2 separate regions of the Homo sapiens genome follow, and region 1 is linked to region 2. The links come from fine-mapping of genetic effects on gene expression. A gene starts in region 2. The other region holds a variant in brackets. All regions are shown on one strand. Distances are from middle to middle.

What was found. PIP is the estimated chance that this variant, and not a neighbour inherited with it, causes the effect.
Region 1: its variant is fine-mapped to the expression of BRPF3-AS1 in testis (GTEx, PIP above 0.99).

The regions. Positions count from the first base shown.
Region 1 is chr6:36,230,914-36,241,642 of GRCh38, reverse strand. BRPF3 (bromodomain and PHD finger containing 3) reads right to left here. Exons shown (of 13, transcript NM_015695.3): 13 at 8,853-10,729. Among named protein-coding and RNA genes, the nearest start is that of PNPLA1, 34 kb to the left of the region's middle. RefSeq lists a silencer at 1,517-1,811 and an enhancer at 5,648-6,193. The variant G/A (reference allele first, on the strand shown) is at 5,710.
Region 2 is chr6:36,190,180-36,200,555 of GRCh38, reverse strand. It overlaps BRPF3-AS1 (BRPF3 antisense RNA 1), which reads left to right and starts at 3,353. Exons shown (of 3, transcript NR_187147.1): 1 at 3,353-4,519. BRPF3 (bromodomain and PHD finger containing 3) reads right to left here and starts at 3,812. Exons shown (of 13, transcript NM_015695.3): 1 at 3,586-3,812; 2 at 1-259. The coding sequence starts at 233. RefSeq lists an enhancer at 3,058-3,107 and a silencer at 3,458-4,197.

The DNA.
Region 1 (10,729 bases), 41 kb before region 2:
TTTTAAAATTTTGGCATTATCTACTGAAGTTGACAATGTACTTTCCCAATGGCCTTGCAAATGCCCTGGAGAAGTTCTTACCCAACCCCCGCCATTCCCCCCAACACACACCAAAAGAAACAATTAAGAACATTTGCACCAGCTCTGTTCCTAGAACCCCAAAACTGAGGCCAGCACTGAGGCCAAGCACAGTGGCTCATGCCTGTAATCCCAGCAGGCATGAGCCACCCTTTGGGAGCCTGAGGCCGGAGGATTATTGAGGTTGAGAGTTCAAGACCAGCCTGGGCAACATAGTGAGACCTTGTCTCTATAAAAGAAGTTTTAAAAATTAGCCAGGTGTGATGGCTCATGCTTGTAGTCCCAGCTAATTGGGAGGCTGAGGTAGGAGGATCGTTTCTTGAGCCCTGGAGGTTGAGGCTGCAGTGAGCCATGATTGCACCACTGCACTCCAGCCTGGGCAACAGAATGAGACCCTGTCTCAAAAAATAAAATTAAATTAGAAAACAATAATAATTATTATTAATAAATAAAATAGTCCAATGAAAATAATCATACTATCTCCATGCAATGGAATTCTATACAAGAGTGAAAATGAACTAACTCCGGACATGCGTATCAGTACACTGAACTTCAGAACTATAATTATGGGTGGGACAAAAGCCAGCCATAGAAAACTATTCTATTCATAATCCCAAAAAGGTAGTATACCATATTCAATTATTATATATATTTATGTCTTGTTATATATAATGTTTATTACATTTATCTTAGTATAAAAATATAGTATATTTATCATAATCTATTATAAACAAGTAGTAGGATTATAAAAAGACAAAAAGGGCAGGATAAGCGTAAAATTCATGATAGTATTTAGGGGAAGAGGAGGGTGGGGCTGGAGAGAGGCACATGGTTTCAAAAGCCCAGCTTCTTTGTCTAAAACAGGGCGTGGGTACCCATACTGGTCTATTGTATTGTGGGTGTCTTTAAAATGTATATATATTCTATAACTACTATTTTTGTATCTACTCAATATTTAATTTTAAAATTTTAAATGAGGCCTAGAACACTATAAAAAGTATGCTACCATTTGTATAGAAAAAGTGGACACACACATCACTCATGTGCATAGATTAAAGTGTCTCTGGAAACTTACACATGCAACTGGTGAAACTGGTTTCCTCTGGGGAGGAGAACTGGGAGGCTGGGGACAAGGAGGGGCAATAAATCAATTGAAATTAAAAATCACAAAATTTAAGGAGAAGGAGACAAAGAAGGGAAGGAGGAAGAGAAGGGAGGGTGGAGGGGAGAGGCCAAGTCCTGGTCCCAGGAGGGACAGGGAGCAGAAAGAGGAGGACTGGCCAGGCTCTGGCTATCAAAACCTGTGTGTGCCACAGGCACGAGTGGAGCCAGAAGCCTGCAGTCCTGCCCAGGAAAGCCTGTGTCCTCCGCGCACAACTCAGGCTTAGACCCAGAGAATGCTCTTTCTTGCACCTGAGGACGGGGCTGGCTTCAAACAGTTGCCCAGGTTGACCCTGGCTCTGCAGTCTTTTGTTTCCAGAGCTTTGCTTCCAAACGAGGCTCCCTTGGGTCTCTTTCCCTGGCCCTGCCTTCTTATCTCCAACCTTCACCCCACCTGTGATCCAAGCGATTCCTTTGAAGTTGCTTCAGAGTCTTCTGAGCCTTCATCCTTGATGACTCTGAAATGTGCGTCTGTGGCACCAAGGTCAGCCAACAGCAAGTAGGCCCTTTTCATCTCCTTTTAAACCTTCCCCTCAAGGACTCAGTGTCCTTGCTGTATTGCCTTATCAAAACCTGCTCACATATCCTTTGTTCACACTGGGATACCGGTCATTTAAAGGAAAACAGGCCCACTCTAACCAGGGTCACTGCCAAGTCCCTAAGTATCATGCCCTTGAGAGGTAAAAGCATAAAGCACTAAGGGTAGAATTTTGGGCAACAGCCAGTGGACAAGGACAAAATGGGTGCAATATGCAGGGGTCCCTTCTGCCCCACCGGTAACCATAACACCTCAGGACACAGGCTGGGGTCTGTATTCAAAAGTGGGTCCCTCAGACCGGGCACAGTGGCTCACGCCTATAATCCCAGCACTTTGGGAAGCCAAGGCCAGCGGATCCCTTGAGCCCAGGAGTTTGTGACCAGCCTGAGCAACATGGCGAAACCCCATCTCTACAAAAAATACCAAAATTAGTCTAGTCGGGCATGGTGGTGCACACACCTATGGTCCCAGCTATTTGGGAGGCTGAGGGGGGAGAATCGCTTGAGCCCCAGGAGGCAGAGATTGCAGTGAGCTGTGATCGAGCCACTGCACTCCAGCCTGGGCAACAGAGTGAGACCCTATCTCAAGAAAACAAAAACAGAAAGTAAAAAAGCAATCCTCGAGCAAAAGTGGGTCCCTCAGAGCCCAATGACAGTGATGAGGAGGATGAGGTGGGAAAGGTAGTGTTACTCTGAACTAAAAAGGACTGCCCAGTGTGACCCTATCTCCCAAACAGCCCATGCAGGGATCTGGGTGGCACCATAGTACAGAAGTGGGTGCCAAGAGAGGCCTGGGCTGCACAGCCAGGTGCATACATGCCCTGGAGTCCAGGACAGGATCAGCAGCAAATCCACTCCAGGGAGCTCTCCCCCCTCACCATCCTCTCAATCAGGGTTCCCCAGTTGAAAAGCACCTTGGCAGTTCATAATTCTCCCTCTAAAGCCAGAAAGTGCTGTAAAGGATAACAGAAGCCTGGCTGCACAGTGGAGCTTAATGGAAGTCATTCAACAAGCAGGTCTGGAGCAAACATCATGGACCAGCAGTACTGTGTGTTGGCACAGATGTGAAGCAACTATACTCTGATACGGCTTGGATATGTGTCCCCACCCAAATCTCATATTGAATTTTAATTCCCAGTGTTAGAGGAGGGGCCGGGTGGGAGGTGACTGGATCATGGGGGCAGATTTCCCCCTTACTGTTCTCACGATAGTGAGTTCTCAGATCTGGTTATTTTAAAGTGTGTAGCACCTCCCACTTTGCTCCCTTCCTCCTGCTTTGGCCATGTAAGATGTGCCTGCTTCGCCTTCCCCTTCCGCCATGATTCTATGTTTCCTGAGGCCTCCCCAGCCATGCTTCCTATACAGTCTGCAGAACCGTGAGCCAATTAAACCTCTTTTCTTTATAAATTACCAAGTCTCAGGTATTTCTTTATAGCTGTGCGAGATCAGACTAATACAGGTGGGGAGCTGTGCAAGATCAGACTCATACAGGAGGGGATATAAATTGAACACCAAATGGGAAACTGGCAGAATCCACTAAAGCTAAACATATATCTGCCCCGTGACCTAGCAATTCCACTCCTGGGACATACAAGCACTTATGTCCATCAAATGACATGTACAAGAATGTTCACAGCAGTGTTATTTATAACAGCCCTAAACTAGAAATAACCCAGTGCCCATCAGCAGGAGAATGGATACCCAAACTGTGGTGTGTTTGGATGATGGAATATTACTCAGCAACAACAAAAAGCAAACTATAGCTACATGCAAAACAGGGTGGAGCTCAGAGCCACAATGTTAAATGAAAGAAGCCAGACACAAAAGAGCGCAAGCTGTGTCATTCCATTTATGTGAAGTCCAAGAACAAGCAACACTAACCCACAGCAATGGAAGTCTGGATGGTAGTTACACTTGCAGCAGGGGTCCTGACTGGACAGGGTCATGAGGAACCTTCTAGGGCACTGGAAACATTCTGTATTTTGATTTGGATCACAATTTCATGGGTGGGTACACATATAAACACTCATAGAGATTAATCTTAAGATTTGTGTCCCAGAGTTACTGTATGTAAAACTATATCTAAAATATGAAAATACTCAAACTTCGGGGTCTGTTCCTCCTGCTCCTGACCTGACTACTCCACTAACTGGTCCTGACCTCGGAAGCATGTTGTATCTGCTGTGGAGTGATCTTCGTTCCCGATGCTGGTGGCTGTACCCAAAAGCAGAGGTGGGAACTTCTCAATCAAGAGGAGAATTATATGGCCATATGGTGGCTTCCTCACTCATTAGATGTTTGTACATGGGGCAGAATTTGGTCTAGGACTGAATTCCATGGAAATTTACCCAAGAGAGCAAAGTTGTTGGGAGGAAGATATATAGCTCCCATCTAATTTCAAATGCTATGGAGACTATCAGTATTTTAACAAAACAGAGGAACTAACAGGCAATGCTTGGTTTAGGCCAGTCCATGAACAACAGCAAGTGAGAAAAAGCCAGACTTAGGCTGAGGAGGCGTGGGGAGGACTTGCATCCCAGTCGTACCATGAATTTCCGCAGTGATGTCAGAGAGGTAACAGACTACTCAACTACCTAGTACAAGAAACTAAAATACATGCTCTACCTAGAAAAAACAAGAGACTATAAGGAATTACATTAAAATGGTAGTTTCTGTGTGGTCAGAAAAAGGGTAGTTCTTAATTTCTTTGCACTTAAAAATTTTCCCATATTACATACAAAAAACCCCCACGGATTTTATAATCTTTCCTGACCAGCTTAGATAAAATCTCCTTCAGGCGTCACTCTGGACTGTGAAGCTGAAGGGAAGGAGCCCACCCCTGGACCCTTATGTGATACTCCCTGCCCATGAGGAACCATCAACGTCGCATCCCCAGTATGGCTTCTCTATCCCCCAAACGGACGAATACTAGGCAGAAAGGAAGAGGAAGGGATTGAGACACGGCTTCAGGAGTTCAACTGAATCCACCCTCTTCCAACCAGCCTTACAGGTGTCAAGCAAAGGACATAAAATGTTCTCAGAAACAGCACCACGGCCCTTCTGAAATTTGGGGACAACTAGCTTTTTTGACTCTATGTAGCCTGTGATGGGGGTAGAGCTCAGTAGTAGAGTGTTTGACTGCATGTAGCCCGTGAGTCCTGGCCCTATTAAAGTTGAAGAGAATACTTATGTATATGTACACACACACACACACACACACACACGGACGTTTTTCGTCTATCCCCAATTACCTTCTGCCACCCTCGAAGGGAAAGGGCAGACAGAAGGTCACCCCAGGTGCCAGTGAAATGGGAAAAGTTCTCTTATCCCCCTCGCTGGGCATGCAATGGGGGTGTGGCTCACTTCTTTGGTACCCCATAGCTCAAACCCCTAGCGGGAGCATGCAGACAGGCAGGTCATGGGGAGTGTGGGCTCCGACCCCACTGCAGCGTCTAAGGTTTGAGTGTTTACAGCTCCCCAAGCCCCAGTGGGTGTGTGTTACATTATGCTCTTCTAGTTTAGCCATCCGCAGACAGCTTGTGTTAATCAGCTTAATTAGGCCCTCTGCCTTATCACAAGGACAGAGGGCTTTCTGTATCCTGGGTTCTTGCCTTGGTGTACCAGAAAAATAGGATCACATGTGGGCTTGGAGGATGGGTGCAAGGTTTTATTGAGTGGAGGTAGCTCTCAGTGAGGTGAATGGGGAGGCCAGAAGGAGGATGGAGTGGGAAGGTGGTCTTCACCTGGAATTGGGCTGCCCGGCAGCTGGACTCCGACCGCGCTGTGCCAAATTTCACGTCATCGTGGCGTCGTCGATAGCCTGTCGGCATCTGTTGGTGCCTTTCGGTGTGTTCTGCTTCTCTGGACTTCCAGCCGGCTGTGTGTGTGTGCCCGCTAGGGTCTCGGGGTTTTTACGGGCCCAGGATCAGGGGC[G/A]TGGCGGGCCAGAGTGGTCTTGGAAAATGCAACATTTGGGCTCAAAAACAAGGGTGCCTGTCCTCACCTAGGTCCGTGGACCAGGCCTGAGGGTGAAGCCCTCACCAGGGACCCCATTCTTCTCTACCCAGCACTTCCCTGCCCTTCTCTCGTATCACCAGGGTGGATCCAGCACTCCTCTCCAGCTCTAGCCCAGCACGTATCTCCCTGGCCCTTCTTCCTCATCACAGAGTAAGAAACTTCTGCCCCACCTTTTGGAGAAACCACTTCCCTCCTCCAAAGACCTCCTTCCCTCATCCCAGCTTCAGTAGAGGCCAGAAGGCTGCAGCCAGCAGGACCAGAGACCTGCACACTCATTGCCCGACTGCAGACACTGTGGGAGGCCTGCAGACTCAGGGTAGTCAAGGCCCACACCCTCCCTCTCTCCTTCAGCACTACTCCGAGCCTGGCAGTCTTGCCACTAGCCCCACCTCTTCTCTAAAAGTGAAACTCAGAGCCTAGCCAGGTCAGGAGAGCCCATCTGACGCACTGGCACATTCACACTCAGGTGCTAATGGCATCTAATATATTAATGGAAGCAGCCAAGCTGACAAGGGATTTTGGCAAATGCTTTCAATGATATTTTTTAACTTGTTAGGAGAATGGGATTCTCTATTCCGAGAGTCAGAGTGTCTCCAACACATGTCCCAATATTACAGTATCATTTTAGACTTGAGTTCATGAATTTCAGTCACATCATTGATAAAATTTATTAAGGACACTTTTGCCTACTTTGGGTAATATATAAGTCCGTGGAGAGCAGAAAGGGCTGAGTGGGTGCTGAGTTCTGGTCCAGCCCTGCCTTTTCCTGCCTTGTGATGCTAAGCACATCTGACCTGCCTTTCTCCTCCATCTGTGGCATGAGGGCTTGACATTCCCTGTGAGGCCCTCCCTGGAGAACAGACCCCTCAAAAGGTGCTGTCTCCCCCTTTCCCCCAACCCCAGACTCTAAGTGTAAGGGGCTTTCCTCATGTCTGTCCTTCGCCTTCCTTGCTGTCCTTGGCCATTCTTCTAACTGCCTAGGTGGGCTCCACTGTGCCCACATCTCTGTCATCTGCTCCCATCTTTCTCCTGAATTCTGGGCTCAACTCCCATCTGTTTGCTGGAGGTTTTTCTTAGATGTCCCATAGACAACACAAACTCATCAAAAAACCTACACTTTCTCCTCCCTTCAAAACCCACAGCGATCCCTCCAGCAGCCACCCAGCATCCTGTCTTAACACTCTTGCTTTTTAACTTTGATGTTTAGTTAGTTGCCAAGCTCCAATCAAGTCTCTGCCCTGTTCAAATCTTTCAATGGATGCTGCTACCTGCCATATATGAATGGCACCCACCTTGCCCTGTCTTTGGGATCCTTTATTACGTCAGTCTCAGAGAGGCCCAGGGTCACAGAGTGAGTGACAGTGACAGGGCTTTTAAGCCCGATATACTGCTCGCCACCTCGGTGGGTTCCAGTCACGTGGGAGGTCAGCTAGTCACTGGAGCTGGAATATGCACAATCTCTTTCTGAGCCATGACTTTGTCTCCTCTTCTTAGCCTCGCCTGCTAAAATCCTACCCATCTGGCCACTTTTATTTCTAAAATGGTTTATAGAATGAGCTTGTAATTTCACCCTAAATATTTTGTAAATATTTTGCAAACGTCTTTGTAATTCAACTTACAATTCATAAATAAAGTCTTTCCTAACCCCATTTGTCAAGGCTTGAATTAATTGCTGCTTCTGAAGGCTTTCATTACTCCCCAACCAAACATGTCTCTCCCAAACGCCTCCACATATCTGGGACCCTCACACTGGCCTTATGCGGCGTTATGTGAGATGTATCTTATAAATCAGGTTGTGAGTGTCTTGAGACCAGGGGTGTGTGTCTTTGCAGCCCCAACACGTAATACAAGGATTATCAGCACATTGGCAGTACTTTGTCAGTGTTAGGCCAAAATGAGAACTTTGACACTTTTTTGACTTCAATGACAAGGCTGTCAAAGGCCCCGTGGAGGAAGTGATCAAGAGACCCGAGTCCTCAGCCACACCGAGACAAGCATAGGAGCCAGGTAGGACCAGAATGGGATAGGAGTAGGGACAGGGGAAAAGCTATTCTATGCCCAGCAACCAAGCAGTTTGTCTCTGGGAACTCCCCTCTGCTTCTGCTCTTCAGGACATTCCTATCCAGAAATGCCAGAGCCACAGCCACTGAGAGAGGAACACGATACAGAATAGGCCAGTGGAGTCTTGAAATGCTGTGGAGCCCATAAACAAAGCCTTGGCCAGATCCTTGTCTCAGAATTATGCCACAGTTTCTTAGTTGGCTGACCTTGGTCTTTTAATTTTGCTGGTCTGTTTCCTTGTCTGTAAAATGAAGACCAGGTAGGCTTAAGGATGCCTTCCAGCTTTAAGAGGAGTGAGGCCTATATTCCCCTGTGTGTGTCCCAGCTACCCATCTACAGAATTAAAACAGCAGCAGTGACATAAGAGGTGTGAGCATCCTTGAGTCTCAAGTTCAGCAAGCTTGGTAAGTCAGGTGTGTCCAAAGGGTCACTCTCCTTCTGAATGAGGAGCAGAGGCTCCTAAAGGAACATGGCCACAGGGAAGGCGAGGCATGGGAAGGTAGGATGGACCTTCCAACAGCTCCCAGAAGGTGCCAGCGCTGTCCGGGAGGGAAGCAAAGTCAGAGAACATCCTCACACTGCTCCTAGGGGTCCAAGAGATAGACAGAAGCTGGGCATGGTGGCTCCCACTTGTAATCCTAGCACTTTGGGAGGCCAAGGCGGGAGGATTGCTTGAGTCCAGGAGTTTGAGGCCAGCCTGGGCAACAACAACAAAAAAACAGCTGGCCATGGTGGCACGTGCCTGTAGTCCCAGCTACTGGGGAGGATGAGGTAGGAGGATCTCTTGAGCCCAGGAAATCGAGGCTGCAGTGAGCTATGATCATGCCACTACACTCCAGCCTGGGCAACAGAGACGCTGTCTCAAAAGAAAAAAAAAAAAAGAAAGATACAGCCCTCGCTAGCTAGGAAACTTTCTTAATGGTCCTGGCCTGTTGAGGAGGAGGCTGTAGGGAATGGGAAGACAGGGGTAGGCCCCTACTGATTAAACACAACACAGCAACTACTGCCCATTAGAACATTTATTTCTCAGAGAGAAAATAAGTTTCAGACAGTCATATTATAGTAGGTAAAATTAACTTTTGTATTCTTTACAAGCATAGATTTTTCTCTGTTTATTACCTCTCTTATACCATCTGTTATAAACAATTCTAGAAAGCAAATAAAGTCACTCTCTACAATAAATAGAGCATCATGTGCTTCACAGCAGACGCGACAGAGACACATAGGCCCCGTGCCACAGCAGGATCTGAGCCGTTTCCCGTTCTAAAAGAGCATTTTAAAAAATGAGACTCAGAGAGAGACTAAAATATTCAGAGATTGAAAAATAAAGAGAGAGACTAAGAAGAGAAAGTGTTGGGGGGAAGAGATAGACATAGAAAGAGAGGAAGTCCCAAGATCTTACAACACAGGTTTAGACAAAGGTCACAGAGTCCACAGCTGACCAACTACCTGGGGAGAGGGGAAGCACTGGCTCCTTTAAATCAACGACACTGTGTGGCCACACAATGGAGGACTCCAGTAATGGAAACTATAGGCCTGAATAATTTAGAACAGTATTTTACAATTATATACACCATGTCCTTCCCTAGCCATATGCTGTATTGTTTTTATTATTATACAAAATCCAAAACCCCATCCTTTTAAGTTATAGTGTTTTGTTGGTTCCCTTTTAAACTCTGGCTCATGTCCCAAATGTATAAGAAGTTGTGGTGGTTGGTTGGTTGTATTTTTAAAAAGTCAAGTGTGTAAAAATGGCAGTGATCTCCCCAGTGACTGTTTTGTCCAAAACTCCCCTATGAAAAATTTAAAACAATTAAAAAGAATATCAGGTTAAAAATCAACATGGCAATCAGCGGCCTGCAACTGGCCCTGCGACTTTGGTGCTCAGGAGGTGAAAAGAAATGTCCAGAGAACAGACACTGAAGCCTCTGAAAGTTGTGTTGGTTTGTCAGTCAGCATTCCCCATTCACAGTTTTTTTTTCCTTCCATTTTTGAGAAGGTGAAGGTGGGGAGGGGGTTGAAGAGAAAGAAGGAAGGAGGCAGAGGGTTTGAAATAAAAGTAATGCATTCCCTGGAGTTGGGAAGTGGGAGTAGCAGAGGCTAGGCAGGGCAGGGCAGAGCGCAGGCCAGGAAGATGTTTGGTGGCAGGCGCCATGCCATCCAGGTGGTGGAGAGTGAAGCTTAAGACTGCAATTGCAGAAAAAGTCCATGAGGAGAGAAGAAGGAGAAAAGGGGGAAGAGGGCAGACCCAGCTGACGAGCACAGCTCCACACAAACCACCCTCGACATCCATGTGGACAGATGGACACTCGCACACCCAGCCTGATAGGAGCCCACCCTGAAGGCTTGGACCACCTCGTGGCAGCAAAGAAAAAAACAAGAGGGGACCCGCCTTGATCCAGGGGGCACACTTGCAGAGCTGGGAAGTTGTGTCAACAGCTAAAGGGAAGGTCTGTGGGTGGGAGGTGGTGTCCTGGGGGAGGGGGTCATAGGTTGTGGGCTGGCCTCTGTCTGGGCCTGAGGAGCCTGGCAGAGACACCACCTGGCATAGCAGCTGGCCTCAAGGGGAATGAGACATTAAAGAAAAAGACCAGTGTGGTGACGGTTTCTGTCAGTTTGGCACAAGAGAAAAAGAAAAGGAATATGGGAAAGAGAAAGCAAGACTGGGCAATGGGTGCAGAAGATGGGACCGAGAAGAGGTGTGAGAATAGGCGATAAGCGGGAGAGAGTGTGAGCTTGGGGAGATTCCCCCTGGGACCCTGGCGTATCCACGGCATCTCTGGGATCAGTGTCGGAACCTCACCCGCCCTGAGGTGTAGTTAGTGGGAGTAGGATGGAGCGGGCCAGGCAGCCCCTCAAGAAGGAGCCCAGGACCTCT
Region 2 (10,376 bases):
TTGTTACTATTGCATTCGGTGATATCCTGGGCAGTTAGCTCATCTTCAGTAATGATTTTGAGTGGGTCATAGATGCTGATACGATGCAGGCGTCCATCAATGTCTACCTCGACAATCCGCTGGGCCTGGGCATATGTCAGGGTCTCCCGGGTGGGTGAGCACTTGAGACTGTAGGGGGACGGGGAACGCCGGCCCTCGGCATTCTGCCGGGACTTCCGACGAGGCTTCCTCATGGCACCTGGGAACTGAGGGGACAGGCCTAAGGAGAGAAGGCCAGGAGACTATGAGTTGGATGCCCTTATGCACCCATTCATCCTCCCATATGATCAAGCATCCACCAAGAGGACTGGCTTTTCCCTCTGTCTGAACAACTTGCCCCTCAGGCATCCACATGGCTTGCTCCTTCACTTCCTTTGAGTCTTTCATTTCTTCAAGTGAACAACACTTCTCAGTGAGACCTTCTCTGACCACTTTATCTAAAATTGCAAATCCTTTTCCTCCACCAGCAATCTACCTTTCATTCTGCTTTATTTTTCCCTTTAACATTCATCATCTTATACCATGCTACATAATTTACCTACTACTATGTTTATTGTTTCCTTCCTTCCACTAGAATATAAGCTCCATGAGGGGAAGAATTTTTGTTTGTCTTGTTCACTGCTGCATCCCCAGTTCCTGGAGCAGTGCTTAGCTCCTAAGTAACCACTCAATAAGTATTAGTTGAATGAAAGAAGAAATCAAACACACATGATCCCTGCCCTCAAGGAGCCCTGTCTAACTCAAAAGACAGAAAAGTAAACAGATTATTACAGTGTAACATGGGGAAAGATCTAATGTTCTAATGATGTACATAAAGCTGGGCGACAGCTAACTATGGAAAACACATGTAGTTAACGGTTTAGAAAAGAAAACAAGAAAAGCATCCACTGTCAAGCTCTGTACGTGAACAATGGGCCCCATCAGAGGATCAAAAGTCACTAGAGTCTTCTCCCAATACCTCTTACCACGATCAGAAACCCTACTCCTTGACCCTGCCTAGAGGTGAAGGGGTGAAGGCATCTGAAATATCTATGATACATGGTCTAAGGGCTTCAAACTACAGTATGCAGGGTATTCCCTACAAAAGACACCATCCAGGACAGCAGTCCCCAGCCTTTTTGGCACCAGGGACTGGTTTCGTGGAAGACAATTTTTCCACAGATGAGGGTGGGTGGTGAACACTGTTCCACCTCAGATCATCAGGCATTAGTCAGATTCTCATAAGGAGCATGCAACCTAGATCCCTCACATGCGCAGTTCACAGTAGGGTTCGCGCTCCTATGAGAATCCAAAGCAGCCGCTGATCTGACAGGAGGCAGAGCTCAGGTGGTAATGCTCGCTTGCCCGCCACTCACCTCTTGCTGTATGGCCTGGTTCTTAACAGGCCACAGTCTGCGGCCTGGGGGTTGGGAACCCCTGATCCAGGATACACCAACTAGTACATTTCCAGGCAGAAACAAACCCTAGAAGCTCTGAGAGTGGCTCCAAGAGATCTCTGAAGTTATAGTGGCCTGTCTAGGACCTTCATTCGACCGAAGGCCAAGATGATCTGGGCAGTATCTGAGGTAAACTCTCAATGCATTCTGTTACCTCAAAAGTCTCTCCCAGAACACTCATATCTAGTCTATCCTTGTACAGCCAAGAGAAAGTCCTAGTTTCCCCCATCATTCTCTGGATGACAAGCTCATAAGGAGCTGCGGTAGGCAGTTACCAAGGCTGTCACCACCAGGAGAGACCTTTGGGGATACAGGGCCCCATGGTGTGGGCAGACTTGGAAGGATATGAACAAAGAGAAGATTTCAAAGAGAAAAACAATTCATCGCCTTGGTTGCAGGGTCTACCATCTATATAAAGTAGAGACGGTGATAATAAAAGCACTTTTTCCAAACTACAAAGCCCTCTTACTTTTAATATTTCTCACAACTACCTTAGGAGATGGTGTAGCTATTATCATCTACACAGAAGCTCAGAAAGATGTCACTCAACGTAAAGCTAGTAAGTGATAACGCTACAATTTGAACCCAGGTCTTCCGATGCTCAATTCCTCTCAGTGGGAATTAAGAACACCACAGAGGTGCTATGGTCTGGTACAAAACGAGGCTCTGGGGCAATCTAGGTTCTAATCTTGGCCCTCTGTGACCTAGAGAAAGTCCCTTAAGCTCTCTATGCCTCCATACTCCATCAGTAAAATGAGGGTAACACAATCTAGCTCTCTAGGTGCTACTTGTTAATAAGGTATTATTAACATCTTTACTTGAAAGGCCTTCCAATCCCAAAGTGTGACTGAAACAAACAAAAAACCAATTTGGCTGAGGAGCAGTGCCAGGCGGGCTGGCACACACCCCATTTGGAGCCAAAGGAAACAGAATCATCGCAGCAATTCTGTCCGGGTTCCAGAGGCCCTTGGCTACTGGATTCCTTACAAATGCCAAGTCCCTGGGGGCAGACAGGGCCAACAGACCTGCTTCATCACCCACCCCTCCAAAGGCACCGAGGCCCTAGAAGAGGTGAGAACATCTGCCTCCACACCGACCCCAAACAGCGCAGACAGGCGGTGCGGCGCCCACTTTCATGAAAGCCGCTCCATCTTCTCCTTCCCCACCTGCCACCTCCTCGGCTGCTCAAGCATCTCTCGACCATGCAAGACTCTACACAGACGTGTTTTGTCCCACCCACGCCTCCAGACACCGGGGAGAAACTCTAGAGGGGGAAGGGACTGCTGATGAGGGAAATGAAAAGAGTTTCGCCCACAAGGAGCTTACAGTCTAGACGAGTTTTTTGGCGGGAGTTTCTCAACCTACACAGCCCTTCCCACATACACACCTCCAAAATATCTCCAACAACCCCCGCCCCCCCAGATTTCCCCTCGGCACCCCCTGACCCCTCGCTCACCCACCCCATCCAGGTCCCCGAAGAATGAGGAGCTTCTGCAATTAGACTGTATCCCCTGCACCTCACACAAGATACTCAGGAGACAAGGAGGACCCCAGCCAAGGCTCCTGCTCCTTTAAGGGGGCACCTCTTCCAGAAGAATCTTGACCCCTCGGAGAAGAAAGGAGGGAAATAACATCTCCTCAGAGGGGAGGGGCGAGCGCACCAGAGACAGCCTGACGTGGAGTCCGACCCTCAGACAGAGAAAGCGAGCGCCAGCGAATGAGCGGGGCGGAGAGGCGAGAACCCATTGGCTGCGTCACCTGCCCGTCAGAGGGACCCAGGGGACCTAGGGCCGCTCAAGGGGCGGGACTCTCGTCTGGCCAGGCCAATTGGAAGGCGTGGCGGGGGCGGGGCTTAGCGGCTCGGAATCCAGGGCTGGGGGGGGAGACAAGATGGCGGCTGCGGGAGGGGGTCCTCGCTTCTCAGCTCCCCCGCTCACCCGCCTTCTCCTTCCCTGCCGCCGCCCTCGCTCCAGGAGAGAGCTTTCGCACCGCCCCCGCCCTGCTCGGAAAGCCCCCCGCTTCTCCGGTTTCCCCCCGTGCAGTCCCTGGTCCCCGAAGGCCCCGATGCCCCCGCCCCCGCTCTGTCCGGCCCCGCTGCCGCCCCCATTACCTCAGCCGCCTGCCCGGCCCCACCGTTCGGGGCCCCTGGGCGCGGGCGGGCAGGCCGCCGAGCAGGTCGGCGCGGCCCGGGAAGCGGAGCGCGGTCTTCTCCCGCGCCTGCCTCCGTGGCCTCCGCCGTGCCCCCTCCCGGCCCGCGCTGGGGCCCCGGCCCGGCCGCCGCCGCCGCTCCCGGGGGAGGAGGGGGAATGGAGCCGCCGCTGCTGCCGCTGCCGCCACGGAGCCCGGCCGAGGGGAGGGAGGGATCAGCCCCCAGGCAGGATCCGCCCCTCCGGCCTCCCCCCGCCACCTCCACCCCTTCCCTCGCTCCCTCCCTGACTCTGCGGGCTCTCCCGCTGAACAGGAGCGAGAGCGCGAAAGAGGGGGAAACGGGAAAAAAATCCCCCCGCCCGTGCCTGGCGCGGCGGCGGCCGGGGCGGTGCGGAGAGGAGCGCGGAGGCGCCGCCGCCGCCGCCACGGGGCACCATCCCCGGCTCGGCCTCACGGTGGCGGTGCGGGCGCGGCGGGGACACCGAGCAAGAGACCGGGTCTGCGCCCGCCGCGATCCCTGCGCACCACGGCCCTGCCCGCCACGGGGCGAGCCCGATAAGAGGGCTGTGGACGTTCGGGTCTAGTTGGGAGAGACAGGGGTCCCTGACTCTTGAGCGGTCAGTCATTTCCTCCCCAGTCCTTGTGGGTGACGTGGCTACGGTTTGGAGCAGCAAGCCCCCTCCCCGAACTAAAGGGCCTCTCCAAAGGTTAAGCCAGGGCAGTCATTGAGGTCAAAACCAATATGTAGTTTCTTGACTGCAGGTGCCTGCACGACTCCCAGAAAGTCGCGTCTCCCCTAACCCCCATGCCCAGGACCTGAGGACAAAGGTCTAGCGATTGTCCATCCCCTCCCCCAGTGAGGACAGCCGGGAAAGACCTGCCTTTGTTGTGTACAGGTGAGCGTCTTGTTCCGCACCACACATCTTTTAAAAAAAAAAAAAAAAAATCTGACTTTCCGTTTAAAAGGAGTAAACAAAAGTTTGACAGTCTGCTTAAGCATGCCTGGTAACTCGTCTGTCACTGTGGGCATGGGAAACACTTTAAACCTGACTTGGTTAATTTAATGCATTAGGCGGCTTTCTAAAAGATGCTTGACAAATGGCAGCATCAGACCAAACTGGCTTTTGTTTTGATCTAAAAAAACAAAAAAATAAAGAAAAGGGCTCCATTGCCACCCCCTTTTGCCTGTAAACTGGAAAGCTTACCTCATGTGACTGAAGTCTTAAGCACCAATACATAATGATGTTTATAAAGGACGTATGGATAAGCTGCCTGTAAATGTGAAGGTGAGTGACAGTTTGAAAGTGTTTCCTCTGCTGGCACTTGTGGTGTAGCTGGTGAGACTCAATTTCTTTCTTGGTTCTGATGATCAAGGACATGTATTCTAGAGTCAGAAGGATGAAGGATAAAGTCTTAGGATCCAAATTTTCTGAATGTTTAAAGTGAACATACTGCTACTTTGGAAGTATAGATGTTATACTAAGGAATTTAAATATAGAGAGTTTCAAATTCAAAAGTTTGATTAAGGAAGCTAATTTGTTTCCAAGTAAATAGCATCTTCTGGCAAAGAGATAGTACAAAAATGCTTCTGTTAACCAATTTTTTAAATGCAAGGGGGGTGGCTCGTGGAGCTAAGCAAGGGCAGGACAATGTTTTGAAAGCTGTGAAGATGAAATAGTATGAATTAATGTCAAGTGTTCTGAAGCTAGGGGGAATAATCATTTGGAGGGAAGGTGTGGAAGAAAAAGATGATTAATTGTGGAAGAGAAAGCCCCAGAGGCAAGAAAATATTGCAATTACAGTACTTGTAGTTAAGAAAAAAAAAGTCTGAAAACTAACAGAAACTATTAAAACATGAAATATAATAATCATTTATACATATGACTAGTAACTTTTATTTCTTGATGGATGTTCTCAAAATTTATTTAGCACAATTCCCATTTGCGTGATCAGGAGCTATCTTTTTCCACTAAAATGAATGAATAAATACCTTGAGAAAATGCATTGGTTTCTACTTGTAAGTCAACGATTTAAATGCTGTTGAAAAGGCCTTAAGTCAACCTAATGCATGTGATTTTTTTCAGGTTTTTCTATTCAAAGCTTTCATATTAAGACCTTATTCAACCTAAGTGTTTCTCTTCCATTTTCAACTTCTACTTTTTTAATGATATCATTACAGTTGCCCTCACTTTAATTTTTGACATTTGGAATTGGTTTCTACAAGCATAACTGCACACGTAACCAGTTCCCTGTGATGGAATCTTAAATGTAACATGGAACAATTATGTTATTAAAAACAAATTTGGAACATATATCAAAAATCTCAGAGGCACTAAATTTAATTCACTTTAATCGTTTGCTATTTTAAACGGTTTAAATTCACCACCCCTGGCCTTTCCAATAAACCATACAGCAATTAAATTCAACAAACAGAGGCATGGATCTTTGATTCCAAATAGTTGTTTTTAAGAACCTTCCAGCTGTAAGTAGAAACCAACTTATTTGGGATAGGAGAAGGTTTTACCATTTAAAACTAAAAGAAACATGAATACAAAAAAAAATCACCATTTCCCCACCTCTTTCTTTCATACTTCCCCATCATACTTTTTTTCAGCATCTCAGGATATCTTTGTTAATGCTTCACTATTGTCATTAGTTTATCAGGCCAAGAAACCTCTCAGGGGTCAGACGCAGTACCCACTGGATTAATAACGTGGATGATAAGGAAAAAAATAGGCCTTGATTGATTGTTAAATTATTTTTAATAGAATATTCCTTCCTTAGATACTTGACTAAAAGAATTCTGAAACCACAGTTGGGAGGAATGTTTGAGGTTGGAATCATTGTGATACTTTTTTTTTTTTTTTTTTTTTTTTTGAGACGGAGTCTTGCTCTGTCGCCCAGGCTGGAGTGCAGTGGCGGGATCTCGGCTCACTGCAAGCTCCGCCTCCCGGGTTCAAGCCATTCTCCTGCCTCAGCCTCCCAAGTAGCTGGGACTACAGGCGCCCGCCACTACGCCCAGCTAATTTTTTGTATTTTTAGTAGAGACGGGGTTTCACCGTTTTAGCCGGGATGGTCTCGATCTCCTGACCTCGTGATCCGCCCGCCTCGGCCTCCCAAAGTGCTGGGATTACAGGCGTGAGCCACCGCGCCCGGCCGATACTTTTACACTAATTAAAATGGTTTAAGAATGTAAAGTTTGCTTGGAAAATGGGAAAAGTTTAGCTAGGTTAACAACAGGTCTTAAATAGAGTAACATACCACACTCTCTAGATTTAATTCCATTTATGTATTTCTAAAACGTATTCATTGACCACTTAGAGTGTGTCTAATACTGCACAAGTTCTTTGGAAAATAATGACAAAATCTCAACCTAGAAAGGGACTAATGATCATAAGTATAGATAGAATATATTTTTTCTTGCCTTGAGTAGTGTGCAATCCAGAATGGTAGAAATAAGTAGAAAACACATACAAGAAAAAATAGATAAGGCAGTGAAGAGTATGGAGCCACCATTATTCAAAGAAGGCTTCTTGGAGAATGGGAGACTTCTTTAAGCCAAGTTCTAAATCATGATGGATGTGAACTGGTGAAAAGAGTGTAAAGTGACATTGGGTTGGTGACAGGACAGTCCAGGCAAAGGGAAAATATGCAGGGAATAATGCGGAAATTATCCTAGCTGGTATGTATGGGCAGATGATAAGAAAAAGATTGAATTGGGTAGGAGGTATGGCAAGGGGACAGGGATAATAAAAATAATACCTAACACTTATGTACAAGGTACTGTGCTTAGTGCTTTATATACTCCATTTATTAAAGATCTTTGTTGCAGTTAGCAGAAAACCAACTTAAGTGAGTTTAATAAAGGAAATAAACTCTCATAACCAGAAAGTCCAGGGGTGCATCTAGCTATAGACAAGATCGAGTCAAAGGACTCGAATTATGTCATCAGCATACTGTATCTTGCAATTTCTCAGCCATCCTGAGCCAATAACTGTGGCCAGAGGGACATGCTGCTTGTCATGTATCAACTCCTAAAACCAGAGGACATGAGCAGGAGAAGATTGTACAATGGGGTAGTAGGTACATGTACAAACTAGGTCCAATATGCACACCATATCTTATTTATCAACTTACTAACTCTATAAAATGTTACTGTTATCCTCTTTATGTATTGGAGAAAGTAGAACAGGAGATCCGGTAAACCTGGAAGAGTTTACTATAGGTAATTAGGCATTATGAAAATAAAAAGGCATTAAGCAGAATGATGGAAAATGTGTTAGAGAAAGAGGAAAAGGAAAGGTCAAATCAGAAATCAGATGACAAAGCAACTGTTTTGTCTGATTGGACATAAGAACAAAGGAGAAGATTGAAGAAGAATCTAAGTTCAAACTTTGTAGGTTCTCACAGTTTGGTACAATCATTGCAAATTAAGAGGTGGCAAAGGGTTGCTCGGGAGCTCCTATTGGAGGTGGGAACCTGAGGATTGAAGAAATGATGAAATCAGCTCAAGTTCTCTGGAACCTCTTTTGGTCACACTGAAATACATATTTATTCAATTACTATTTGTGAGCTGCTGGTAAGGTTCTATTTTATGGCTGTAAAGGCCACAAAGGTGAAAAGAGTATGCTTGCAGACTTGAAGGCATTTAGATTCTAATCACAGTATAAAGCAAGGGTATTTATAACTGGAACGTGCTACAATATAAGCACTTCAAGAGAGATGCAAACGAAGTGCCAAAGTTTGGAGGAGGGAGTGAGCTCGTCTGTTTAGGAGAAGAGGGAAGGCTCTGTGAAGAAAGTGCTATCTGAGCTCTACCTGAAAGCTCTCAGGTAGGTGTGTCAGCTAGAAAGATGGTAGAGGGAGTGTGGTCCAGGCTGAGCCACCCGCATGAGCAAAGAGGAAGAACGTATCAAAGAATAAAATTTCAACAAATGAGTCCCAAAGATCCAATTGGCTTTATTAGCTGTTTATGAACTGGGCAACATCCAGTCTACAAAATAGAAAGGAGTTCCTATGAGCTAAACAAGTAGGTGAGTTTTATAGGCAGAAAGAAGTGAAATAAATCAGGAACAATGAGCAAATAGCAGATTGGTCTTTTCAAGATTATTTTTCTTTATAGGAATGTAAATGAAATCTTGTTGGTTTAATGGGATTTGACTATCATCTCTCTCCTGATTTCTTGAAGAGTCAGATCTTACAGTAAAATACAGGTTTTGGTTTGGTGTCATGGAACCTCTCAGCATGAATGACTCCATTTGGGGTCTGCTGTCTTTTCTTTAACACATGGAATGCCATAAGATTGTTTCAGGAAACAGTGGGTTACCCATTGACCCAAAAATGAGGGATATGAGAGAGAAGGCTGGTAAGGTAAAGTCAGAGCATGGAGACTGTTGGTTGGGTAGGGAGCTAGACATGAAGGGGCAGGAGACCCTGATGATTTTTGGAACAGGGAAATGACTTCAATAGTTCCATGCTTTAAGTTCTAGTCAGGCAAGAGAGTGTGATACGGTATGGTTTAAATTAGCTATCCAGTGTGGCTTGCATTATCTTCTGAACTTGAATTCTAGCTAGAACATTTTACCATATACTCAGTGGAATGCTAAACCAAGCAAGCATGAAAGCAAGTAGTATGTGACAAGTATAAATTGTTCAACTTGATCTAATGTCTTATCTTTTCAACCTTTAATTAGGATTTCTATTAAATCCTAAACTCTTAACTGTGAGTGAAGCCAGGACACTATAAAATATAATTCCATATTTTAGCAGAAGTACCAACCCTAAAAGTAGCCATCTTCTTGGCATAATTTTACTAAAGGGAGAGAAAATACACAAAAATAATAGCACATACTAAACTAGAACCTGCATTTTGACAAGATTTCCATAAGTAATTTATATGCATATTAAAGTTGAGAAACAGTGAATTAGAGGATTTTAGAGAATTCCAGGATTAAAATACTCTGAGAAAAAGGTAAAGTTAAAGGATTAATATTAGCTTTTGATTACTCCAGAATACCTATAATAATAAAATACATGTTTCCATTTATATGAAATTCTGGAAAATGCAAACTGCTCTATAATGATAGCAGATTGGTGGCTTCCTGGATGTGAAGGGGAGGAGGGACTATAAAGGGCATGAGGAAACTTTTTGGAGTGATAGAAACATTCTGTAAGTTGATGGCAGTGGTGGAGAAACAGGTATATATACATTTGCCAAAACTTAAACTGTACAGAGTAGCTGTCTTTTATTTTACATAAATTTTACCACAATTAAGTTGATAAAGCATACCTGTTGCAATTTTTAGACTAATCATTAACATTAAAAGAATGAAAAAATGAGGATGTAACTCACAAACTAGTACAGAGTAAAAAAAGAATAAAAAATTCGACCAACCTAAAAGAAGTCAAGGAAAGAAAAGGAAATATAGTAAAGGTGAAACAAATAGAAAACAATGAAATGATGGCAAATTTAAATTCAATTTACAATTTACATTGTACATTGTAGAAAGAGTAGTCCACAATGAGTGGGACATTTCTGGAAAAGTTTAATGATTGCATGGTTAAAATAATGTCTGGCTTGACAACATGCATTGGTCCCCACTCCCTCCCCTAACTTCAATAATGTTAGTAAAGGATAAAAAAATCCACAAGACAATGAAATCCACAAGAACAAAGAGAATGAGGGAAAACAACAGCAGGTGAGATTTACTATCTCAAGAAATTGAACTAAAGAAGTTCTAGACTTGGGGCCAC